Linked DNA regions of Homo sapiens: regions 1 and 3 are each linked to region 2. Evidence: fine-mapped expression QTL. A gene starts in region 2. Each other region holds a variant in brackets. All regions are shown on one strand. Distances are between the middles of the regions. Region 1 overlaps CASC3 (CASC3 exon junction complex subunit). Region 2 holds the start of CASC3 (CASC3 exon junction complex subunit). Region 3 overlaps RARA (retinoic acid receptor alpha).

What was found. PIP is the estimated chance that this variant, and not a neighbour inherited with it, causes the effect.
Region 1: its variant is fine-mapped to the expression of CASC3 in whole blood (INTERVAL, PIP 0.98).
Region 3: its variant is fine-mapped to the expression of CASC3 in whole blood (TOPMed, PIP above 0.99).

Annotation. Positions count from the first base shown.
Region 1 is chr17:40,164,353-40,172,660 of GRCh38, forward strand. It overlaps CASC3 (CASC3 exon junction complex subunit), which reads left to right. Exons shown (of 14, transcript NM_007359.5): 8 at 2,445-2,509; 9 at 3,146-3,260; 10 at 3,498-3,596; 11 at 3,851-4,065; 12 at 4,972-5,094; 13 at 5,246-5,310; 14 at 6,095-7,819. The coding sequence ends at 5,269. Among named protein-coding and RNA genes, the nearest start is that of MIR6866, 6.6 kb to the left of the region's middle. RefSeq lists an enhancer at 3,712-4,271. The variant A/G (reference allele first, on the strand shown) is at 4,183.
Region 2 is chr17:40,136,752-40,145,059 of GRCh38, forward strand. CASC3 (CASC3 exon junction complex subunit) reads left to right here and starts at 3,786. Exons shown (of 14, transcript NM_007359.5): 1 at 3,786-4,028; 2 at 4,456-4,483; 3 at 4,819-4,856. The coding sequence starts at 3,798. It overlaps MSL1 (MSL complex subunit 1), which reads left to right. Exons shown (of 9, transcript NM_001365919.1): 9 at 1-166. RefSeq lists enhancers at 3,397-4,337, 3,803-4,102.
Region 3 is chr17:40,354,327-40,362,416 of GRCh38, forward strand. RARA (retinoic acid receptor alpha) reads left to right here. Exons shown (of 9, transcript NM_000964.4): 7 at 1-180; 8 at 937-1,095; 9 at 1,683-3,317. The coding sequence ends at 1,900. It overlaps GJD3 (gap junction protein delta 3), which reads right to left. Exons shown (of 1, transcript NM_152219.4): 1 at 6,326-8,090. Among named protein-coding and RNA genes, the nearest start is that of GJD3-AS1, 4.5 kb to the right of the region's middle. RefSeq lists a silencer at 767-836. The variant G/T (reference allele first, on the strand shown) is at 5,332.

The sequences.
Region 1 (8,308 bases), 28 kb after region 2:
TCCCAGGTTCAAGTGATTCTCCTGCCTCAGCCTCCTGAGTAGCTGGGGTTACAGGCGCACACCACCACGCCCAGCTAATTTTTTTTTTTGTATTTTTATTTATTTATTTGTTTTGAGATGGAGTCTTGCTCTGTTGCCTAAGCTAGATGCAGTGGCACGATCTCGGCTCACTGTAATGTCCACCTCCGGGTTCAAGTGATTCTCCTGCCTCAGCCTCCCGAGTAGCTGGGAGTATAGGCGTGCACTACCACGCTGGGCTAATTTTTGTATTTTTAGTAGAGACCGGGTTTCACCATGTTGGCCAGGATGGTCTTGATCTCTTGACCTTGTGATCCTCCCACCTTGGCTTCCCAAAGTGCCGGGATTACAGGTGTGAGCCACAGCCACCGTGCCTGGCCTTTTTTTTTTTTTTTTTTTTTTTGTGACAGAGACTTGCTCTGTTGCCCAGGCTGGAGTGCAGTGGCACGATCTTGGCTCACTACAACCTCTGCGTCCAGGGCTCAAACAATTCTCCTGCCTCAGCCTCCTGAGTAGCTGGGATTACAGGCTCTCACCACCACACCTGGCTAATTTTTTTTTTTTTTTTTTGAGACAGAGTCTCACTGTTGCCCAGGCTGGAGTGCAGTGGTGTGATCTCGGCTCACTGCAAGCTCTGCCTCCTGGGTTCACGCCATTCTCCTGCCTCAGCCTCCTGAATAGCTGGGACTACAGGCGCCCACCACCGCGACTGGCTAGTTTTTTTTTTTGTATTTTTAGTAGAGACGGTTTCACCGTGTTAGCCAGGATGGTCTCGATCTCCTGACCTCGTGATCCGCCCACCTTGGCCTCCCAGAGTGCTGGGATTACAGGCATGAGCCACCGTGCCTGGCCCACACCTAATTTTTGTATTTTTCATAGAGATGGGGTTTCATTATGTTGGCCAGGCTGGTCTCGAACTCCTGACCTTAAGTGATCGACCCATCTTGGCCTCCCAGAGTGCTGGGATTACAGGCGTGAGCCACTGTGCCAGCCCCAGCTAATTTTTAAAAAATTTTTTGTAGTGATGGGTCTTGCTATATTGCCCAGGCTAATCTTGAACTCCTGGGCTCAAGAGATCCTCCTAAAGCGCTGGGATTACAGATGGAAGACACTGCACCTGCCCGGTCATCATTGAGCCTCCTGAGTACAGGATCATTTTCCACAAAAAGTAGAAGAAGACAACGTTATTATTTGAACTAATGGTTAAATATTTGAAGGCAGAAATTTATTCAGTTGAATTTTGATCAAGATCTTCTCTAATATATTTGAAAGGCAAGCCTCCCTTATTTCCTTAATCTTCTAGAGACAGATTGCCCAATAGAACTTTGTGTAATGATTGTACTTTTGTGTTTTTGTTGTTGTTGTGTTTACATAGATATAGTTTTTTTTTTTGTTTTTTTTTTTTTTTAGATGGGTCCCACTTTGTCACCCAGGCTAGAGTCTGGAGTGCAGTAGCGTGACCTTGGCTCACTGCAACCTCCGCCTCCAGGGCTCAAGCAATCCTCCCATCTCAGCCTCCTCAGTAGCTAAGATCATAAGCACACATCATTACACCTGGCTGATTTTTTTTATTTTTTGAAAAGACGGGGGGTCTCACTGTGTTTTCCAGGCTGGTCTTGAACTCCTGGGCTCAAGCAGTCTTACCTCTGCCACCCAGAGTGCTGGGCTTATAAGCATGAGCCACTGCATCCAGCCGGAATTGAACTTTTAATTAATTGAAACTTAAGTGTCCACATTTGGTTAGTGGATATCATATTGGGCAGCATAGTTTTAGAGAGTAAGACCTACCTATTACCCATTTTGCCTATTGTGGTTTGTTTTTCTCCAGCCAGATAGATCAAAGGATCTTCCCTTAGTCTGAAATCTAACTTAAATATTGGAACTCCTCAATTGGAGTTGCAGCACCCTTCTTACTATTGGAGGACAATCTCTAGAACATTCCTTTTTGTCTTGAGTCATTTTAGCCAGAGGAGAATCTCCTTTCAAACTTCCAACCCAGACCCCTGTGAATGGATATAATCAAGTAGATTTACAAAGCATCCCTCCCTTGTCCAGCTGTTGCTCAGAAACTCTTGGGCTGAGATTTTTCAATATGTTGGATAATGTAATGTGCTAATTATAATCTCTCAGGGATTCTATGCAGGGAACAATTTGATAGGAAAAAATTTGAATTTGATTTTCTTCACTGAAGTCATTTTATTTTTCATTTTCAAGGGCTTTATTGCTATATTAAGATGGCAGACAGTGGGGACAAATTTCTAAATGCTGGTGTTGACAGAAAGCAGAGATAGTTTATAGAGAATTTTATTAGTTAAAAGAAAAAAGGCATTCCTTATGTTGACACTTAAACCTGTCTCTTGATAGTATCTTTGAGTCCCACTCACGTATGTCTGATCTGCAGAAGTGACTTTTTTGGTGTATTACAGGTATGCCCAACCATATACACATGGGAGCAGGACCTCCACCTCAGTTTAACCGGATGGAAGAAATGGTACAGAAGGGGAAAGGGGTAGATGGGGGAGGGAGCTGCCTGTTACACAGCTTGTTCATTGTTTAAACCAAGATAAGGTCTTTTTTTTTTTTCTTTTCTTTCTTTCTTTTTTTTTGAGACAGAGTCTCGCTCTGTTGCCCAGGCTAGAGTGCAGTGACGGGATCACGGCTCACTGCAAGCTCTGCCTCCTGGGTCCCAGTTCAAGCAATTCTGCCTCAGCCTCCCGAGTAGCTGGCATTACAGGCACGTGCCATCATGCCCAGCTAATTTTTGTATTTTTAGTAAAGACAGGGTTTCACCATGTTGGCCAGGCTGGTCCTGACTCCTGACCTCATGATCCACCCACCCTGGCCTCCCAAAGTATTGGGATTACAGGCATGAGCCACCACGCCCGGCCAAGATAAAGTCAGTTTTTCCATTGATTATGCATGTTTCTTTTAATTTGGATCTCCTAAATGTAAGGTAGAAGGTTTAGGTTCAAATCTTGATATCTTTTCATTATTTTTCAGCTCACTTTGCAAATATCCATTAAATACCTGCCATGTACCAAGTGTTTTTCAACACCTAAAGGAAGGTAGGACTTGATATGAGAGCCCTCTAGAATTCTTATTGTTTAGGCCTCTTTCTTTGTCTCAGGGTGTCCAGGGTGGTCGAGCCAAACGCTATTCATCCCAGCGGCAAAGACCTGTGCCAGAGCCCCCCGCCCCTCCAGTGCATATCAGTATCATGGAGGGACATTACTATGATCCACGTGAGTTTTTTCTTACTGTTGGGGTACTTTTCTTGGCAGGGTGAAGTGAAGTAAGATACCAGGCTCCTGGCTCCTGAATTTCTCTTCTGACCTCTTATAGTGGTTATCAAACATTGTCTGGTTGCTGTTTTCTTCGCATGGAATATTGAGAACATCTTTTAAAGGGCTTGGGGAACAAGGAGACTTGTCCATGTGAAGAGTAAGGGTTTATGAGAGTCCCAATGTGATATCTTACAGTGCAGTTCCAGGGACCAATCTATACCCATGGTGACAGCCCTGCCCCGCTGCCTCCACAGGGCATGCTTGTGCAGCCAGGAATGAACCTTCCCCACCCAGGTAAGCTTTGTGTCTCTGCTTATATGCTTCCAGTACCTGAGGATATATGTTGGGAGTGCCACAAAACCCATCCTCCTGAGCTTTGTGCTGCTAGCCTGGGAGTCTGGCCATCCTGGCTGCTTGGGCAACAAGTTCCTCTTGTGTCCATCCTGAGGACTTCCATTCTGAGCCTGATTATACTGAGCAGTCCAGCCGGGCCATCCTGTGAAAATGATGTTACTTTATTTTTCAGTTTTTTTCTTCTCCTTATCCAGGTTTACATCCCCACCAGACACCAGCTCCTCTGCCCAATCCAGGCCTCTATCCCCCACCAGTGTCCATGTCTCCAGGACAGCCACCACCTCAGCAGTTGCTTGCTCCTACTTACTTTTCTGCTCCAGGCGTCATGAACTTTGGTAATCCCAGTTACCCTTATGCTCCAGGGGCACTGCCTCCCCCACCACCGCCTCATCTGTATCCTAATACACAGGTGAGATGGCTAATGATCATGTTTTTCTAGATACACATTCTTTAATTCAGACAGGAATGTGGTATGGGGAGAATGCTAAAGGAATTTGAGAGAACATTTTCAGTGCCACTGATTTGT[A/G]TGTGACACCAAGACGCCTCTTAGTGGTCAGGAGCTGGAAATGCAGCTTATGTAATGCCCATCATCTTTATTCTTTTCAGTTTTTTTCTCCGTTGCCCAGGCTTGGAGTGCAGTGGCGTGATCTCGGTTCACTGTAACCTCCACCTCTTGGGTTCAAGCGATTCTTCTGCCTCAGCCTCCCGAGTAGCTGGGATTACAGTGCCTGCCACCATGCCCGGCTAGTTTTTGTATTTCTAGTAGAGATGGCGTTTCACCATGTTGGCCAAGCTGGTCTCAAACTCCTGACCTCAACCGATCCACCTGCCTCGGCCTCCGAAAGTGCTGGGATTACAGGCATAAGCCACCGCACCCAGCGTTCAGTTTCTTTAATGGTGTTTCTTTCCTGTGTTGTGGTACATCATAGGTGGCAATACCTGGTTTTTACTCTATTGCATAAAGAAGCTGTATTCTACTCCTTATCACCCCTACCTCTGTCCTGCTTAACTTCCACCACGTTGACATAATCAAGTATCTGTAGTGTCGCTACTGAACTCAGCCTTTTCCATTTGTCAGCTGATGGTAGGAATTAGAGAAAGCTGGGCAGTACTTTGAAGAAATAAAAACCAGAGCATAATAATGAAGAATTAAGGCAAAAATGAATAGTCACTTTATTTTGAAGGGTGGGCAGATTAGATATTTTTAAAATTATAAATTCCCCAATTCTCTTATGGCTGAATAATATTTCCTGTTCATCATAGGTTGGATGAATTCATTCCTAACTTTTTCTTCTCCTGGCTTGTGGGGTCCCAGGCCCCATCACAGGTATATGGAGGAGTGACCTACTATAACCCCGCCCAGCAGCAGGTGCAGCCAAAGCCCTCCCCACCCCGGAGGACTCCCCAGCCAGTCACCATCAAGCCCCCTCCACCTGAGGTATGAGAGTTCCTTCCTATACTTAATGCACATGCTCCGTCAGTGGGCTTTCCTTCTCCCCAGAGGATTTCCCTCATTTTCTGGGTGTGTTTCTCTGGAAAACAGTCTTTTTGTTATGACCTGATAACAAATTCCAACTTTGTTATTTCAGGTTGTAAGCAGGGGTTCCAGTTAATACAAGTTTCTGAATATTTTAAATCTTAACATCATATAAAAGTAAGTGCACAACTTACTGTGAATATTGTTAAAACTAATGCTCACACTTGCTTAATAAACAAAAATCACTTAATTAATGCTTTTTTTTTTTTTTTTTTTTTTTTTTTTTTTGAGACGGCGTCTCAGTCTGTTATCCAGGCTGGAGTGCAGTGGTGCAATCTCGGCTCACTGCAACCTCCATCTCCTGAGTTCAAGCGATTCTCTTGCCTCAGCCTCCTAAGTAGCTAGGATTACAGGCACGCACCACCACACCTGGCTAATTTTTGTATTTTTAGTGGGAATGGGGTTTCACCATATTGGCCAGGCTGGTCTTGAACTCCTGACCTCAGGTGATCCACCTGCCTTGGCCTCCCAAAGTGTTGGGATTACAGGTGTGAGCCACCCCACCCAGCCTCTGATTAATGCTTTAAGTTATAATAATCATGGGATATCTCAGGAGGCTTAAAGGAGTCCTGAAATTTGCCAGTTTGTTTGTTTGGCAAGTGTATTGGGCAGGGTTGAAGTAGAAACGATTGTTAACATGACAGTTTTCAATTGGGAAGCTACAAGGAAAAAATACAGGAAGGCAGTCAAGGAAAAGGGAAATCTAAATTTGAGATGTTATAGCAGAAAAAACCAGTTCTAAAGATCATAGAGGAGAAGGACTGGGGGTTTTGTTGCTTTTGTTTAAGGACATTACTTAAAACACATTATTTAGAAGTGTGGCTTTTTGAAAACAGCTTGTGAATGCCCAGAAGGCCCACTAACACTTTGGTGGTTCTTCCCTTTTTCCAACCCCTGTCAGAGCAGCAGAGGTGAGAACTCAGAAGAGAAATACAGCTGGCTATCTACTACCAGAAGGGCTTCAAAGATATAGGGTGTGGCTCCTACCAGCAAACAGCTGAAAGAGGAGGACCCCTGCCTTCCTCTGAGGACAGGCTCTAGAGAGAGGGAGAAACAAGTGGACCTCGTCCCATCTTCACTCTTCACTTGAGTTGGCTGTGTTCGGGGGAGCAGAGAGAGCCAGACAGCCCCAAGCTTCTGAGTCTAGATACAGAAGCCCATGTCTTCTGCTGTTCTTCACTTCTGGGAAATTGAAGTGTCTTCTGTTCCCAAGGAAGCTCCTTCCTGTTTGTTTTGTTTTCTAAGATGTTCATTTTTAAAGCCTGGCTTCTTATCCTTAATATTATTTTAATTTTTTCTCTTTGTTTCTGTTTCTTGCTCTCTCTCCCTGCCTTTAAATGAAACAAGTCTAGTCTTCTGGTTTTCTAGCCCCTCTGGATTCCCTTTTGACTCTTCCGTGCATCCCAGATAATGGAGAATGTATCAGCCAGCCTTCCCCACCAAGTCTAAAAAGACCTGGCCTTTCACTTTTAGTTGGCATTTGTTATCCTCTTGTATACTTGTATTCCCTTAACTCTAACCCTGTGGAAGCATGGCTGTCTGCACAGAGGGTCCCATTGTGCAGAAAAGCTCAGAGTAGGTGGGTAGGAGCCCTTCTCTTTGACTTAGGTTTTTAGGAGTCTGAGCATCCATCAATACCTGTACTATGATGGGCTTCTGTTCTCTGCTGAGGGCCAATACCCTACTGTGGGGAGAGATGGCACACCAGATGCTTTTGTGAGAAAGGGATGGTGGAGTGAGAGCCTTTGCCTTTAGGGGTGTGTATTCACATAGTCCTCAGGGCTCAGTCTTTTGAGGTAAGTGGAATTAGAGGGCCTTGCTTCTCTTCTTTCCATTCTTCTTGCTACACCCCTTTTCCAGTTGCTGTGGACCAATGCATCTCTTTAAAGGCAAATATTATCCAGCAAGCAGTCTACCCTGTCCTTTGCAATTGCTCTTCTCCACGTCTTTCCTGCTACAAGTGTTTTAGATGTTACTACCTTATTTTCCCCGAATTCTATTTTTGTCCTTGCAGACAGAATATAAAAACTCCTGGGCTTAAGGCCTAAGGAAGCCAGTCACCTTCTGGGCAAGGGCTCCTATCTTTCCTCCCTATCCATGGCACTAAACCACTTCTCTGCTGCCTCTGTGGAAGAGATTCCTATTACTGCAGTACATACGTCTGCCAGGGGTAACCTGGCCACTGTCCCTGTCCTTCTACAGAACCTGAGGGCAAAGATGGTGGCTGTGTCTCTCCCCGGTAATGTCACTGTTTTTATTCCTTCCATCTAGCAGCTGGCCTAATCACTCTGAGTCACAGGTGTGGGATGGAGAGTGGGGAGAGGCACTTAATCTGTAACCCCCAAGGAGGAAATAACTAAGAGATTCTTCTAGGGGTAGCTGGTGGTTGTGCCTTTTGTAGGCTGTTCCCTTTGCCTTAAACCTGAAGATGTCTCCTCAAGCCTGTGGGCAGCATGCCCAGATTCCCAGACCTTAAGACACTGTGAGAGTTGTCTCTGTTGGTCCACTGTGTTTAGTTGCAAGGATTTTTCCATGTGTGGTGGTGTTTTTTGTTACTGTTTTAAAGGGTGCCCATTTGTGATCAGCATTGTGACTTGGAGATAATAAAATTTAGACTATAAACTTGGCTCCCTTGCCAGTGTTTTGCATGAGTCTTGATTTGGGAGGGAGGGAAGAGGACTCCCTAATTCCCCCACAGGGTCACGGTCACAACTCAGGTCAGCCCAAGTTGTGAAACAGAAGCCCAGAGAGATGAGGAGCCCCTATGAGGCCATAAATGTGTCTGCACTCCCCATCAGTTATCTTTTTTAACCACATAGATCACCAGGATGTCATGCCATCCCTTAGATTGGAAGTGTCAGGGACAGAAAAGTAGTGAGATGCTGGTTATTCACATGAGCATCTAGTATCCTTTATGGCTTCCTTTGTGTTTGGCAAGTAAGTTTCCCAAGGTAATATGCCATCAGATGTCAATATAACTATACCAAGTCCTGGGTTGGGGGGAAGTACAGGTAGCTAGCTTTCTTGAAAAGTGAAGATGCTGCTGGCCACCGTGGCTCACGCCTGTAATCCCAGCACTTAGGGAGGCCGAGGTGGGCAGATCTCGATCAGGGAG
Region 2 (8,308 bases):
AAAGAGTTCAATTGTAAATAAACTATTGTGGCTGTTAATTTTTGAACTTCTGCTTCAATTTATTATATTTATTGGCAAACAAACAATTCTGCTTGTATATTTGAAACATTGGAAAAAGAAATCCATTTTCTCAATAAAAAAGAATAACACATTATTTTCCCCTTTATAATAAGGTACTCACTTCCATTTGTGTATAAGTATAATGTATGTTTCATCCCTCTTTGTCCAGTGTACTTCCTTAAGTATAATCAGCAACTTGGCTGGGCGCAGTGGCTCACACCTGTGATCCCAGCACTTTGGTGGCTGAGGTGGGCAGATCACTTGTGGTCAGAGGTTCAAGACCAGCCTGGCCAACACAGTAAAACATGGTAAAACCCCATCTACTAAAAATACAAAAATTATCCAGATGTGGTGGCATGCACCTGTTATCCCAGTTACTTGGGAGGCTGAGGCAGGAAAATCTCTTGAACCTGGGAAGTGGAAGTTGTGGTAAGCCAAGATCAAGCTGCTGCACTTCAGCCTGGGTGACAGCGAGACTCCATCCCACCCACCCCCAACAAAAAAAAAGGGTCGGGCGTGTTGGCTCACATTTGTAATCCCAGCCACTTTGGGAGACTGAGGTGGGTAGATCACCTGAGGTCAGAAGTTCGAAACCAGCTTGGCCAACACGGTGAAACCCTGTCTCTACTAAAAATAAAATAAATTAGCCAGGCTTGGTGACAGGCACCTGTAATCCCAGCTACTCGGGAGGCTGAGGCAGGAGAATTGCTTGAACCCAGGAGGCAGAGGTTGCAGTGAGCCGAGATCATGCCATTGCACTCCAGCCTGGGTGATAGAGGGAGACTCCAACTCCAAAAAAAAAAAAGTATAATTAGCAATTTTAGAAACGAGATTATAGGATACTTCGTAAGTTAACAAAATCTTATAGCTGGAAAGACATTAGAGGTCATCTAGTGTGACCCCGATATGTGATTTACCCTTGATAACACTCCAGACAAGCAAATTCCAGGCTGTGCTTCAACACTTTTTCTACATACATTTTTCCCCCTAAGTGTTTGAAAATTCTTGCTTGTTGACAAAAAATCTAACTTCTTGTAACTTAAACTCACTGGTTTTTGCTTTGCCTTCTAGGATGATGAAAAAAAGACCAATCCCTCCTTTCTTCATAGTCCCTAGTTAAAGATTGCTGTGGGCTCCAGGCCCGGCGCGGTGGCTCAGGCCTGTAATCCCAGCACTTTGGGAGGCCAAGGCGGGTGGATCACGAGGTCAGGAGTTCAAGAGCAGCCTGACCAACATGGTGAAACCCCGTCTCTACTAAAAATACAAAAATTAGCTGGGCGTGGTGGTGCGCGCCTGTAATCCCAGCTACACAGGAGGCTGAGGCAGGAGAATCGCTTGAACCTGAAAGGCGGAGGTTGCAGTGAGCCCAGATCGCACCACTCCACTCCAGCCTGGGCGACAGAGCGAGACTCCGTCCCCCTCAAAAAAAAAAAAAAAAACTGGACCCAGACTAAACAACTGAAGGACAAAGTGGCAGACTATCACTTTCCTTATTTAGACACTAAACTTGGCAGCCTTATTTGCACCAATTTAGTCTGTGATCGATAAGATCCTCCAGGTTCTTTTTCTTTAACACTTATTAAATCATATTATCCTCCATTTTGAACTCAGGCAGTTGGCTTTTGGAGCTGGACTTATAAGTTGTCACGTTTGGCCACTTGTCTAATTAGCTGAGATTGTTTGAATTTTCTTTTTTTCTTTTTTTTGAAACAGAATCTCTTTGTCTCCCAGGCTGGAGTGCAGTGGCGCGATCTCGGCTCACTGCAAGCTCCGCCTACCGGGTTCACGCCATTCTGCCTCAGCCTCCCGAATAGCTGGGACTACAGGCGCCTGCCACCACGCCCGTCTATTTTTTTTTATTTTTAGTAGAGACGGGGTTTCACCGTGTTAGCCAGGATGGTCTTGATCTCCTGACCTCGTGATCTGCCCGCCTCGGCCTCCCAAAGTGCTAGGATTACAGGCGTGAGCCACCGCGCCCGGCCTTGAATTTTCCTTTCATCTCTGAAGGCATTCATAATTACTTCCAGTTTCATGTTATCTATAAATTTGATAAACATCAGGATCCTTAACCATGTCATTTATAAAAATTTTACTCAGGAAAGGCCGGGCGCGGTGGCTCACGCCTGTAATCCCAGCACTTTGGGAGGCCAAGAACGGCGGATCACGAGGTCAGGAGATCGAGACCATCCTGGCTAACACGGTGAAACCTCATCTCTACTAAAAACATAAAAAGTTAGTCGGGCCTGGCGGCAGACACCTGTAGTCCCAGCTACTCGGGAGGCTGAGGCAGGAGAATGGCGTGAACCCGGGAGACGGAGCTTTCAGTGGGCCGAGATCACCCCACTGCACCCCAGCCTGGGCGACAGACAGAGTGAGACTCCCTCTCAAAAAAAAAAAAAATATTTTACTCAGGGAAGAATTCTATGCCATGGTGGCCTTTGTTTGATAACATACATTATTAACGTGCACTCCTGTAGGTGCACTAAAAACTTAGCTCATGCACTTTGTATATCCTTATAATGGTCCAAAGAAAACACACTGATTCTTTTCAATGGTGGCCAATGCCTTGCCAAAATGAAATAATTTCCATAAACCTTAAGAAGGAAATAATGTCAGGATTTTGAATCAACATCTGTTTCTACTGACCATTTATTTTTAAATAGGTTCTAAAATCCTGACAAGGGCAGTAGCTCATGCCTGTAGTCCCAGCACTTTGGGAGGCTGAGACGAAAGGATCGCTTGATCCCAGCCAGGAGACAAGCCTGGGCAAGAGCGAGACCCCATCTCTACAAAAAACAGAAAAATTAGCCGGGTGTGGTAGTGTGTGCCCGTTGTCCCAACTACTAAGGAAGCTAAGGCAAGGAGGTCACCTGTGCCTGGGAGGTCAAGGCTGCAGTGAGCCGCGCTACTGCACTCCAGCCTGGGCAACAGAGTGAGACCCTGCCTCGAAAAAGCCAAAACAAAACCGGTAATACTGGCATCATACCAGCCTGCACTTTGGGACAGGTGATGGCTGGGGTGGGAAGAAACGTGAAGAGGAAATGAGAACACAGAGAAAACGCTGCAACAAGAAGTCCTCTGGCTTCACTGCAGACAACTGGTTTCTCCTTCGCCCGTTATCTTAAACAAGGCTGGTGCAGCAAATCTGACGCAGCACTACAGCTTTTAAGATTTACCTTGATTCGTGATTTTACCAAGCAAAGGAATGCAGTAAATTGACCTGCTTCAAACGTAGGTAGAAGTGAGAAATGGAAACAGAAAACCATGAAACAGCCCTAGTGTTGCAGTGAAGCTGTGACAGGTTGACTCCTTCCACTCGGGAAGCCCAAGATGGCCGGGCCAGGAACCCGGGAGGCTGCTGAAGTCTCAATTCCCCTCGCCCTAGGCCTGCCCAAGGGAAGTCAGGAGCCGCGCCACGCCCCCTTACATCACCGATAGACGTAATCCGGGTCGGCCGCAAACGTGCCGCAGGCCTAGGCCCCGCCCAGTGCCCCGCCCCTCCCCCAACACACACACACACACACACACACACACACACCCCAACACACACACACACACCCCAACACACACACACACACACACACACACACACACACACACACACACACACACACACACAGCGGGATGGCCGAGCGCCGCACGCGTAGCACGCCGGGACTAGCTATCCAGCCTCCCAGCAGCCTCTGCGACGGGCGCGGTGCGTAAGTACCTCGCCGGTGGTGGCCGTTCTCCGTAAGATGGCGGACCGGCGGCGGCAGCGCGCTTCGCAAGACACCGAGGACGAGGAATCTGGTGCTTCGGGCTCCGACAGCGGCGGCTCCCCGTTGCGGGGAGGCGGGAGCTGCAGCGGTAGCGCCGGAGGCGGCGGCAGCGGCTCTCTGCCTTCACAGCGCGGAGGCCGAACCGGGGCCCTTCATCTGCGGCGGGTGGAGAGCGGGGGCGCCAAGAGTGCTGAGGAGTCGGAGTGTGTGAGTGCGCGCAGGCGGGGCGGGGTGGGGACCGGGCGGCGAGCCGGCCGGGGGCGGGGTGTAGGTGATGCTAGGTAGTCTGTGAGTTGATAGTAGATACTGGGACTTTTTTTTGTTTTTGAGAGAAAAGGGGAGTTATCCCAATGCGAGTTTGCATCCGGAGTTCCAAGGGAAGAAGAAGGATTGGGGGTTTCTGGGAGGATGGTAGAGCCGCTGGAGATGGAAAGCGGATGTTTTATTCAGAAGTCGGGGCTGGAGGGAAGGAGACCAGACCTGCCTTGGCTACTACTTGATAAAGATTTACCTATCTCTGTCTCCCTCTCCAACCATTTTGTGCTGAATCTTCAGCTTTTCACCCACATTTCTTTATTGGGCTCCCCACCTCTGGAAATCACAGAACTAACCCATGTCTTCTGCTTTCTTTCAGGAGAGTGAAGATGGCATTGAAGGTGATGGTGAGTAGCATCTTTTACCCCATTAGGACAAGAGTTTTTTTTAACATAAACTCAGGTCATCTATTTCCAACATCGACATTCTCACACACTGTCACGGATTTAGGGCCACAGAGTGCCTTTTTGTAACATAGTGGTTAAGAGCATAGGCTTTAGCAGTATAGTCTTCAGCAAGTTACCCTCTGAGCCTGTTTCTCCTTTTGTAAGTGGGGACTATAATTTTATCCACGTTGTAGGTTGATGTCAGAATTAAATGAGACTCTTAGTCTGACCTGTAATAAGCAGCCAAAAAATGTTTCTGGGTTTCTTTTTTTCCACATATTTCTGTTTTATTTCAGCTGTTCTCTCGGATTATGAAAGTGCAGAAGACTCGGAAGTGAGTATGACAGGTTTTTTCCTATGGTATAGATCAGAAATGCTTTTTAAAAACGTGTACACACCTTCGTTGCAAACGTACCATGACCTCCGTGTTTATCCTCTTGTGTATTCTTCATTTATGCTTCTGAAAAAGTGTTACAGAAGGTCTTGTTCACTTTAGACCTAGGGAAAACTTGGGGCACGCCGTCTCAAGCCACAGGTGTTATACTGTTAGTTGGCTTCTCTTCCTGTCTGAAGAATATGAGGTTCTAAATAAGAGAGTGAGGATATCTTGAAGTCCTCTGAAAGATGTTTGACAGTTTGTTTTATGCAGTGTAGGTTGAGAAGCCAGCCAATTGGTTATTTTTTTCCAAATCTATCTGAAGACTTTGAAAGGGTAGGATTCGGAATGTTTTGTGCCAAGAGCATCCATCATTTTATAGGTGGGGATTTTTCTGTTTTTAGGAGAAAGTTTCCTGTCTTTTGGATAAACTACTAGAGATGCCATCAGAGTAAGTGTTTGTTTCCTGGGTTGTTGAGTGGACTCCTGAGTTCTGGTAATGGGATTATATATAGGGGGAATTGGATGGTGGATCAAAGATTTTGTCTATACATTTTTAGAACTGTTACTACATTTTAGAATCTGTTAAGCCCTTGAGGATGGAATAGTGAACACTATAACAAAATTCCTATCTTTAGAGATCTTACAACTCAATAAGGAAGTCAGACAAACATTCAAGCAATTGTACCACTTGCTGATAGGGGATAGCACTGGGATAGGGCTAAGTAGGGTGTTACAGCTGGGTACTGAATCCATCTTAGGCAGTCGGGAAAGATTAAACAGTTGGCTGGGTAAGATGTGTTCTAGGCAGAGAGAACAACAGTCAAGAAAGCCCACAGGGGCCGGGAGCAGTGGCTCACGCCTGTAATCCCAGCACTTTGGAAGGCTGAGGCAGACGGATCACTTGAGGCCAGGAGTTTGAGACCAACGTGGCCAAAATGGTGAAACTCCATCTCTGGCCCGGCGCGGTGGCTCACGCCTATAATCCCAGCACTTTGTGAGGCCCAGGCGGGCGGATCACGAGGTCAGGAGATCGAAACCGTCCTGGCTAACATGGTGAAACCCCGTCCCTACTAAAAATACAAAAAAAAATAATAATAAATTAGCTGGGCGTGGTGGCGGGCGCCTGTAGTCCCAGCTACTCGGGAGGCTGAGGCAGGAAAATGGTGTGAATCCGGGAGGCGGAGCTTGCAGTGAGCTGAGATTGTGCCACTGCACTCCAGCCTGGGTGACAGAGCAAGACTCCGTCTCAAAAAAAAAAACCCATCTCTACTAAAAAATACAAAAATTAGCTTGGTGTGGTGATGCATGCCTGTAATCGCAGCTACTTGGGAGGCTGAGACACGAAAATCGTTTGATCCCAGGAGATGGAGGTGGCAGTGAGCTGAAATCATGCCACTGCACTGCTACCTGGGTGACAGAGTGAGACTCTGTCTCAAAAAAAAAAAAATAAATAAATAAAAGAAAGGCTGTAGGGGTACAAAAAGAATAGTAATTAGAATGAATAAGATCTAAACCCAGCGCGATGGCTCACACCTGTAATCCCAGCACTGTGGGAGGCCAAGGTGGGCCAGTCACTTGAGGCTAGGAGGTCAAGACCAGCCTGGCCAACATGGCAAAACTCCATCTCTACTAAAAATACAAAAATTAGCAGCTCATGGTCCCGCATGCCTGTAATTCCAGCTACTCAAGTGGCTGAGGCAGGAGAATCCCTTGAGCCTGGGAGGTGGAGGTGGCAGTGAGCCATAATCACACCACTGTACTCCAGCCTGGGCAACAGAGCAAGACTCTTGTCTCAGAAAATTTAAAAAATAAAAATGACTAAGATCTAGAATTTCATATTTGCAACATGGTGACTACAGTCAACCAGTAACTTATTGTACATTTAAAAATAACTATTGGCTGGGCACAGTGGCTCATGCCTGTAATCCCAGCACTTCGGGAGGCTGAGGTGGGTGGATAACAAGGTCAAGAGATTGAGACCATCCTGGCCAACATGGTGAAATCTCGTCTCTACTAAAAATACAAAAATTAGCTGGGCGTGCTTGCACGCCCCTGTAGTCCCAGCTACTCAGGAGGCTGAGGCAGGAGAATCGCTTGAATCCGGGAGGCAGAGGTTGCAGTGAGCCGAAATCAAGCCACTGCACTCCAGCCTGGTGACAGGGCAAGACTCCATCTCAAAAAAAAAGTATATATATATATTAATAAAAGAACGTAATTGAATTGTTTGTAACAAAGGATAAATGCTTGAGGCGATCCATACCCCATTTACCCTTACATGATTATTACACATTGTATATCTATATAAAAATATCTCATGGGCCGGGCTTGGTGGCTCACACCTGTAATCCCAGCACTTTGGGAGGCCGAGGCGGGTGAATCACCTGCGGTCAGGAGTTCGAGACTAGCCTGGCCAACATGGCGAAACCCATTTTCAGTCTCTACTGAAAATAAGAAAAATTAAGTAGGCGTGGTGGCAGGTGCCTGTAATCCCAGCGACTCAGGAGGCTGAGGCAGGAGAATCACTTGAACCCAGGAGGTGGAGGTTGCAGTGAGCCAAGATTGTGCCATTGCACTTCATCCTGGGCAACAAGAGGGAAACTCTGTCTCAAAAAACAAAAACAAAAACAAAACTCATGTACTACATAAATATATACCTACTGTGTACTCAACAAAAATTAAAAACTTTCTTTTTCTTTTTTTTTTTTTGCTTGAGATGGAGTCTTGCTCTGTAACCCAGGCAAGAGTGCAGTGGCATGATCTTAGCTCGCTGCAACCTCCACCTCCCGGGTTCAAGCGATTCTCCTGTCTCAGCTTCCCAAGTAGCTGGGATTACAGGTGCACACCACCACACCCAGCTAATTTTTGTATTTGTAGTAGAGACGGGGTTTTACCATGTTGGCCAGGCTGGTCATGAACTCGTGAACTCAGGTGATCCGTCCGCCTCAGCTTCCCAAAGTACCGGGATTACAGGTGGATTACGGGTGTGAGCCACTGTGCCCAGCCCTCTTTTTTTTTTTTTTTTTTTTTTAAAAAAGAGGCAGGGTCTCACTCTGTTGCCCAGTCACCCAGGCTGGAGTGCAGTTGTGGGGTCACAGCTCACTGCAACCTCAAACTGCTGGGTTCAACCAGTCCTCCTGCCTTGACCTCCTGAAGTGCTGAGATTACAAGCATGAGCCACCATACCCAGCCAAAAAAAAAAAAAAATTAAGTTTTTTTTTTTTTTATTGAGATGGAGTATTGCTCTGTTACCCAGGCTGGAGTGCAATGGCTCGATCTCAGCTCACTGCAACCTCTGCCTCCTGGGTTCAAGCGATTCTCCTGCCTCAGCCTCCCGAGTAGCTGGGATTATAGGCGCATGCCACCACGCCCGCCTAATTTTTGTGTTTTTAGTAGAGATGGGGTTTCAC
Region 3 (8,090 bases), 220 kb after region 2:
CGCCCGAGCAGGACACCATGACCTTCTCGGACGGGCTGACCCTGAACCGGACCCAGATGCACAACGCTGGCTTCGGCCCCCTCACCGACCTGGTCTTTGCCTTCGCCAACCAGCTGCTGCCCCTGGAGATGGATGATGCGGAGACGGGGCTGCTCAGCGCCATCTGCCTCATCTGCGGAGGTGGGCAGGGGGCCTGGGTCTGGGGGCTGGGCTGGGACGGGGGTGCAGCCCTGGAGTCTCTTCCAGGGAGCTCTTTCAGGCCACCTCTGTTAGGTATCTCTAGAGGGCAGGGTCTGGTCTGCAACTACACAGCAAGGGGGCCATGTGGGGCCTGGACTCCTGTTCCCGATTTCTGGGCAACACCCCTTCTAGGGAGGTTAAGAGTGAGGGTTTGAGGGTCGGACCAACCAGGGTCACCTCCTGGCCGATGCATGACCCTGAGCAGGTTGCTGAACTTCTCTGGGCCTCCGTTTCTGTACAGTGGGGGCGGTAACGGTCTCTAGCTCATGAAGTTGATGGGAGGATTACGGTGGTAACAGATACTGTGCAGGTGCCCAGAGCGAGCTCCAGTGCTTGTTAGTTGCTATTTTATTGTTGTGATTTCTGCCATTTCATCTGGTTTCCAGAATAACAGGGGGGAGTGGGAGCCTGCCTGGGAACCCTCTCCCTGCTTGAGGATGGCACTGCCCATTTGGGGTCCCATCCCACTAACTGGGCTCAGGGAGGGTTTGGGGCACCCCCTCACCCTCAGCTCCCGTTGCTCCCTTTTAAGGGCCTCTGTACCCTGCGGCAGCAGAGACCCCATGCCCTGCCCTGTGTGGGGAGGCGCCTGCGAGCTGCCCTCCTCCATGGCCTGGGCAGGCACGCCCCCCGGTGGCCGAGGCTGGGGGTGCAGCTGTGTTCCCAGCTGCTCAGGGGGTGGTTCTGCTTCCTCAGACCGCCAGGACCTGGAGCAGCCGGACCGGGTGGACATGCTGCAGGAGCCGCTGCTGGAGGCGCTAAAGGTCTACGTGCGGAAGCGGAGGCCCAGCCGCCCCCACATGTTCCCCAAGATGCTAATGAAGATTACTGACCTGCGAAGCATCAGCGCCAAGGGTGAGGCTCACAGACCTGGAGGGGTACCGGCCCCCGACACCTGGCCCAGGCCCCCACATCCAAGCCAGCACCCCATGTCTTTGTGCCAGGACAATACGACACCTGTCCCCATCTGTGTCTAGGCTGAGGTCCCCTAGTGACTCCACTTTGCCGAGGTGGCCCGCCTGTGTCACCTTTGTGTGGTAGTTCAGATCGTGGCTCTGGAACCAGACACGTGGGTGTGTGTCCTTGTGTGGGTCACTCAACAGCTCCTAGCTACAGTTTCCCTTCCGAGGGCGGGGATAACATTCGTGTTTACAGAGGGGTCGGGATGATCCCTAGCACACAGCACAGGGGAAGGAAGGGCTTGGCGTCTAGCCCAGGCCGGCAGTCTGGCCCTGGAGCCGGAGTTCGGGACCACTTTGCCCCATTGCCACCAGCCTCTGGACCTGGGGGCTTAAGAGAGCTGGCTCGTGTCAAAGAACTGAATCCCAAGAAAGATGCTAATATCAGCAGTATTGATCTTCCCACCTCGAGCCAGGCTTGCTGGGGCTGGGGGTGGGAGGGCTGGCCCAGCGTGCTGACCTCTGCCCCCTCCTTTCCTGCAGGGGCTGAGCGGGTGATCACGCTGAAGATGGAGATCCCGGGCTCCATGCCGCCTCTCATCCAGGAAATGTTGGAGAACTCAGAGGGCCTGGACACTCTGAGCGGACAGCCGGGGGGTGGGGGGCGGGACGGGGGTGGCCTGGCCCCCCCGCCAGGCAGCTGTAGCCCCAGCCTCAGCCCCAGCTCCAACAGAAGCAGCCCGGCCACCCACTCCCCGTGACCGCCCACGCCACATGGACACAGCCCTCGCCCTCCGCCCCGGCTTTTCTCTGCCTTTCTACCGACCATGTGACCCCGCACCAGCCCTGCCCCCACCTGCCCTCCCGGGCAGTACTGGGGACCTTCCCTGGGGGACGGGGAGGGAGGAGGCAGCGACTCCTTGGACAGAGGCCTGGGCCCTCAGTGGACTGCCTGCTCCCACAGCCTGGGCTGACGTCAGAGGCCGAGGCCAGGAACTGAGTGAGGCCCCTGGTCCTGGGTCTCAGGATGGGTCCTGGGGGCCTCGTGTTCATCAAGACACCCCTCTGCCCAGCTCACCACATCTTCATCACCAGCAAACGCCAGGACTTGGCTCCCCCATCCTCAGAACTCACAAGCCATTGCTCCCCAGCTGGGGAACCTCAACCTCCCCCCTGCCTCGGTTGGTGACAGAGGGGGTGGGACAGGGGCGGGGGGTTCCCCCTGTACATACCCTGCCATACCAACCCCAGGTATTAATTCTCGCTGGTTTTGTTTTTATTTTAATTTTTTTGTTTTGATTTTTTTAATAAGAATTTTCATTTTAAGCACATTTATACTGAAGGAATTTGTGCTGTGTATTGGGGGGAGCTGGATCCAGAGCTGGAGGGGGTGGGTCCGGGGGAGGGAGTGGCTCGGAAGGGGCCCCCACTCTCCTTTCATGTCCCTGTGCCCCCCAGTTCTCCTCCTCAGCCTTTTCCTCCTCAGTTTTCTCTTTAAAACTGTGAAGTACTAACTTTCCAAGGCCTGCCTTCCCCTCCCTCCCACTGGAGAAGCCGCCAGCCCCTTTCTCCCTCTGCCTGACCACTGGGTGTGGACGGTGTGGGGCAGCCCTGAAAGGACAGGCTCCTGGCCTTGGCACTTGCCTGCACCCACCATGAGGCATGGAGCAGGGCAGAGCAAGGGCCCCGGGACAGAGTTTTCCCAGACCTGGCTCCTCGGCAGAGCTGCCTCCCGTCAGGGCCCACATCATCTAGGCTCCCCAGCCCCCACTGTGAAGGGGCTGGCCAGGGGCCCGAGCTGCCCCCACCCCCGGCCTCAGCCACCAGCACCCCCATAGGGCCCCCAGACACCACACACATGCGCGTGCGCACACACACAAACACACACACACTGGACAGTAGATGGGCCGACACACACTTGGCCCGAGTTCCTCCATTTCCCTGGCCTGCCCCCCACCCCCAACCTGTCCCACCCCCGTGCCCCCTCCTTACCCCGCAGGACGGGCCTACAGGGGGGTCTCCCCTCACCCCTGCACCCCCAGCTGGGGGAGCTGGCTCTGCCCCGACCTCCTTCACCAGGGGTTGGGGCCCCTTCCCCTGGAGCCCGTGGGTGCACCTGTTACTGTTGGGCTTTCCACTGAGATCTACTGGATAAAGAATAAAGTTCTATTTATTCTACACATGCCTCCAGCCTTGCTGCCTCCACCCCCTCCTCTTGGCGTCTGGTCTGGGGGCTTGGGATGGGTTTCGTCATGTGCTCTGGGCCTGTGATGGCCAGGAATGAGCACTGGGGCCAAGGGGCTGGCCAGGGCACCCTTCCAAGCTGCCTTCTGAGGCTTACCTTGTGCTGGGGTCTTTGGAGATGCTGAGAAGGAGAAAGTCCTGCCCCTTGGGAAGCCCTCAGTCTGGGGATCCACACTGCCCATGTCAAGGAGCCCCAGTCTGGGAGTGGGAGAGAAGAGGAGGAAAGCTGCCCCCACCTTCAGGGAACCCCCAGTCTGAGGGAGGAAGCCGGAGCCACCCCTAGACATTTCTGGTCCTTGGGAAGCCTTCACCATCACGGCAGGAATGACAGATGGCACAGGAGCTGGGGTCAGGGACTCATAGAAACCTAACAAGAGGCCTGGCGCAGTGGCTCATGCCTGTAATTCCAGCACTTTGGGAGGCTGAGGTGGGCGGATCACTTGAGGTCAGGAGTTCAAAACCAGCCTGGCCAACATGGTGAAACCCCGTCTCTACTAAAAATACAAAAAAGTTAGCTGGGCGTGGTGGCGGGCGCCTGTAATCCCAGCTATTAGGGAGGCTGAGGCAAGAGAATTGCTTGAACCTGGGAGCTGGAGCTTGCAGTGAGCCGAGATCGTGCCATTGCACTCCAGCCTGGGCGACAGAGCAGGACTCCGTCTCAAATAAGAAAGAAAGAAAGAAAAAGAAAGAAGGAAGGAAGGAAAGAAAGGAGAAAGGAAAGGGAAAGGACGAAAGAGAAAGAAAGGGAAGGAAAGAAAGGACAGAAAGGAAAGAAAGAAAGAAAGAAAAGAAAAAAGAAAGAAGAAAGAAAGGAAAGAAAGAAAGAAAAAGAAGAAAGAAACTTAACAAGAACACAGGATTGGGATGGAAGCTGTGGGGGCCTAGCCGGGAGGGAGTAAGGCAAAGGGTTCCTTCTGCTAGAGGCTGCCTGCCATTTCTACATTAACCACCAGGTGGCGGCAGCGCCTTGCTTGACTCACCGGCCGCCCTAGGCTGGAGGCAACCGCGGGGACCGAGGCGCTTTTCCTCCAGTAAATATTTTCTAACATCTTTACGAGTCTGAAATGAAATCTAACATACTGTACCTGTACACGTGATTTCACAGATCAATATGTTGTCACAACCGTATTATAAAGGATAAATTGAGGGGCAGTGCTATGTGTTTCAATAGATTAATGCTTGCCCCTCTTTTGAATGAATACATTTGGATTTAAAAGAAGGTTGGAAGCCATTCTGTACAAGAAGCCCAGGAACATTAAAGAGCATGGGTGGATGTTGGAATAAAAATCGGCATGTTTGATCTATAATAAAACAATGCAAAAAAAGCCCAAACAAAACCCTTAATGGTTTTTTCTTTATCTTTTCTTTTCTTTTATTTTTTGAGACAGAGTCTTGCTGTGTCACCCAGGCTGGAGGGCAGTGGCGCAATCTCGGCTCACTGCAAGCTCCGCCTCCCGGGTTCACGCCATTGCCATTCTCCTGCCTCAGCCTCCCCAGCAGCTGGGACTACTGGCACACGTCGCCACACCCGGCTAATTTTTGTATTTTTAGTAGAGACGGGGTTTCACTGTGTTGGCCAGGATGGTCTCGATCTCCTGACCTCATGATCCGCCCGCCTCGGCCTCCCAAAGTGCTGGGATTACAGGCGTGAGCCACCGTGCCTGGCCTCAAAACCCTTAATGTTTTACATGTAAAACAGGGTTTGGGCCCAGGGTTTTCACTTATGCCAATGTCCAGTTGGACATTCTAAAGTTGTGCCTGAGGCTGGGCGCAGTGGCGCAAGCCTGTAATCTCAGAACTTTGGGAGGCAGAGGCTGACGGATCACTTGAGTCCAGGAGTTCAAGACCAGCCTGGGCAACATGGTGAAACCCTGCCTCTACAAAAAAAAATACAAAAATTAGCCTAGCCTTGTAGTGTGCATCTGTGGTGTCAGCTACTTGGGGGGGG[G/T]GCTCAGGTGGGAGAGTTGCTGGATCCCTGGAGGTTGAGGCTGCAGTGAGCCGTGATAACACCACTGCACTCTAGTCTGGGCAACAGATGGAGACCCTGTCTCAAAGAATAAAAATAAAAACAAAAAAGTTGTGCCAAGCAGGTTTTTATTTCAAGAGGATATCTTGACGTCCATAGCCCTTGCCCACTAAATGCCAATGGGGTCCCCCATCATTGTGAAAACAAAGCAGTGGCCCCCACATTTACAAAATGCCCCTTGGGGTAGTGCCTTTGCTGTTTGGAACCTCTAGTCTTGGGGTTGTCCTCAGTGGTCCACAGTTCACTGCTGTCGAGCAGAGTTGCTCAGCTTCAGCACCAATGTGAAGATCTGAGCCAGGTTGTGGGGGCTGTCCTGTGCATTGCAGGATGCTAAGCAACATCTCCAACCTTCCGCCCATGAAACCCTAGTGGTGCTTCTCTCCCACCCCAGCTGTAACAACCAAATATGTCTCCAGACACTGCTAAACGCCCCCCTGGGGGGCAAAATCACCCCCATGTGAGATCCACTGCTGTGGAGTGTGGTCCTCCAGGGCTGATGTGCTTTGCACTGAGCCAGGGCCCATCCTCCGCAGAGAGACTGAGCCAGAGGAAGGTGACCGGGATGCCACCTGGGCAGAGCTGCAACAGGCTTGACAGGCCTACGGGAGTGCAGGGCAGAGGCACTGAATCACGCTTGGGGCAGGGCTCAGAAGCCTTCCTGGAAGAGGTGGCCTCTCTCAGCTAAATCTCTTTTTAATTTAGTTTTATTTATTTTGAGACGGAGTCTCCCGCTGTAGCCGAGGCTCATTGCTAAATCTCTAGAGGAAAGAATTGGCTAGGTGGGTGCAGATTTGGAAGACTTAGTATGAAAAAAAGAATGTAAACTATCTCCTTAATACTTTTTAATATCAATGAGGCATTAAGATGAAAATACTTTGGGTGTGCTAGGTTAAATAAAATACGTGACTAAAATTAATTTCATTTGTTTCCTTTTACTTTTTTAATGTGGCTAATGAAAAACTTGAAACTACATACATGGCTCATATGCTATTTCCATCGGATGATGCTGATCTTGAACATCTTCTGACACACAGTAGGTACCCTACAAATATTTGTTGAATGAATACATCTGGAAAACAGCGGCACAGCCCCATCTGGGTTTGTGTGGAGGGGTCTGGGTTGTGGACACAGAACTGTCATCAGAGAGATGGTGCCCACCATAGCATGGATAGTGTTCGGGCATGGCAGTGGTGTAGGCCTGGGGACACCTTCAGTTTCTCATCCAACACATATTTACTGAGCACATACTACGTGCCATGGAAGGGGAGAGAGCAATGCCATCCTGCAGGAGAAGTGCTTTCCCTACGGAAGCGAGGGGCATCCAGCTCTGTCTTGGGGTGGGGGCTACCAGGGGAGCCCTCTCCTTGAAGGTGTCTGTTTTCTTCCCAAGTGACAACAATAGGTGGGTGGGCATTAGCTAGGGGAGGAGAAGGCTGCAGGAAGCAGCGGCTACTCTGGGCAAAGGAACAGCACGTTCAAACGCTTGGCAGCAAGCAGGTCTGGTGCTTGTTAGAAGAGAAAATTCCCTATGGTTCTGAGCACACCTGGAAGCCGGTGCTGTGGAGTCGAAGGCCTGACAGGGGCAGGGCTTCAGAAGGAAGCTTTGTGAAGGCGCTTGACTCACCCTGAGGGCAGGGGTGCTGCCCTCAGTCCCGGGTTTAAGTGGGGGGCGCTATTCAGAAACACCTCCCACTGCTGTGTGGGGCACAGGAGAGCTGAGAAAGACGCCAGGAACTCAGAAGGACAGGGTGGGGTGATGGCGGGGAACGCACAGCCTGGTAGGCAGGATGCGGTGAGGCCCGCAAGGTGCAGTCCGATGACGGCCCCTGGATTTCTCGCTTAGGTCCTGGGTGATCTTATGGAGAGCAGCCCACTGGCTGGTGAAGGGGGAGGGCAGACGGGAGGGGAGACACAGGAGGGGGATGCGCTGCATAGGCAGCAGCTCTTCGAATGCCCGCAAGTAGGAAGAAGGGGGTGGTTGGAAGGGAAGGCAGGGCCGGGAGCGCGTGTGTTTTGGGAGCTTTCTCCTGAGGACAGAAGGGACTTTCCCGTTTATAGCCTGGGGGAGCAGTAGCGGCGGGGAGGATGAAGATGGAGGAGGGAGGCATAACACACGTCTGGGTTGCCCTCTGGCCCGCCGCCCACCCCCACCCCACCTCCATGAAAGCGCCCAGCCCCCGCCTCGCCACAAGGGGTACTGTGAGGATGTTGCTCATAGGCTCCCGAGGATTGAGGCCTGCCCGGGGAAAGGGAGCCTCTCCTCCTCTTCCCTCCCTGGGCGGGGTCTCTTGGGAGGGGGGGACAGACCTCCTGTGATGCCCTGGCAGGTGGGCTGGGTTAGGGTGGTAGGGAGGGAGCCATTGTGGCTGCAGCTGGCATCGGATCCTGGCCACCCCCGCAGTGCATATCAGAGATCACACACACACGCGTGCACACACAGAGGTCACGCCGGATGTACACATGCACACATAGCGCACAAGGATGTTTCTGTGTACAGGTGTGCACACGCAGCCCACACAGAATGGACATGTGCGTGTGTGCACAATGCACTCACACAAAGCTCACAGGGATGTGAGTACACAGCTCTCAAGGGGCATATGTTTCTGTGTGCATGTGCACACAGCTCACCCGGGAGGGTTACGTGTGTCTGTGTGCACAAGTGGGCCTCACGCAGGGTGTAC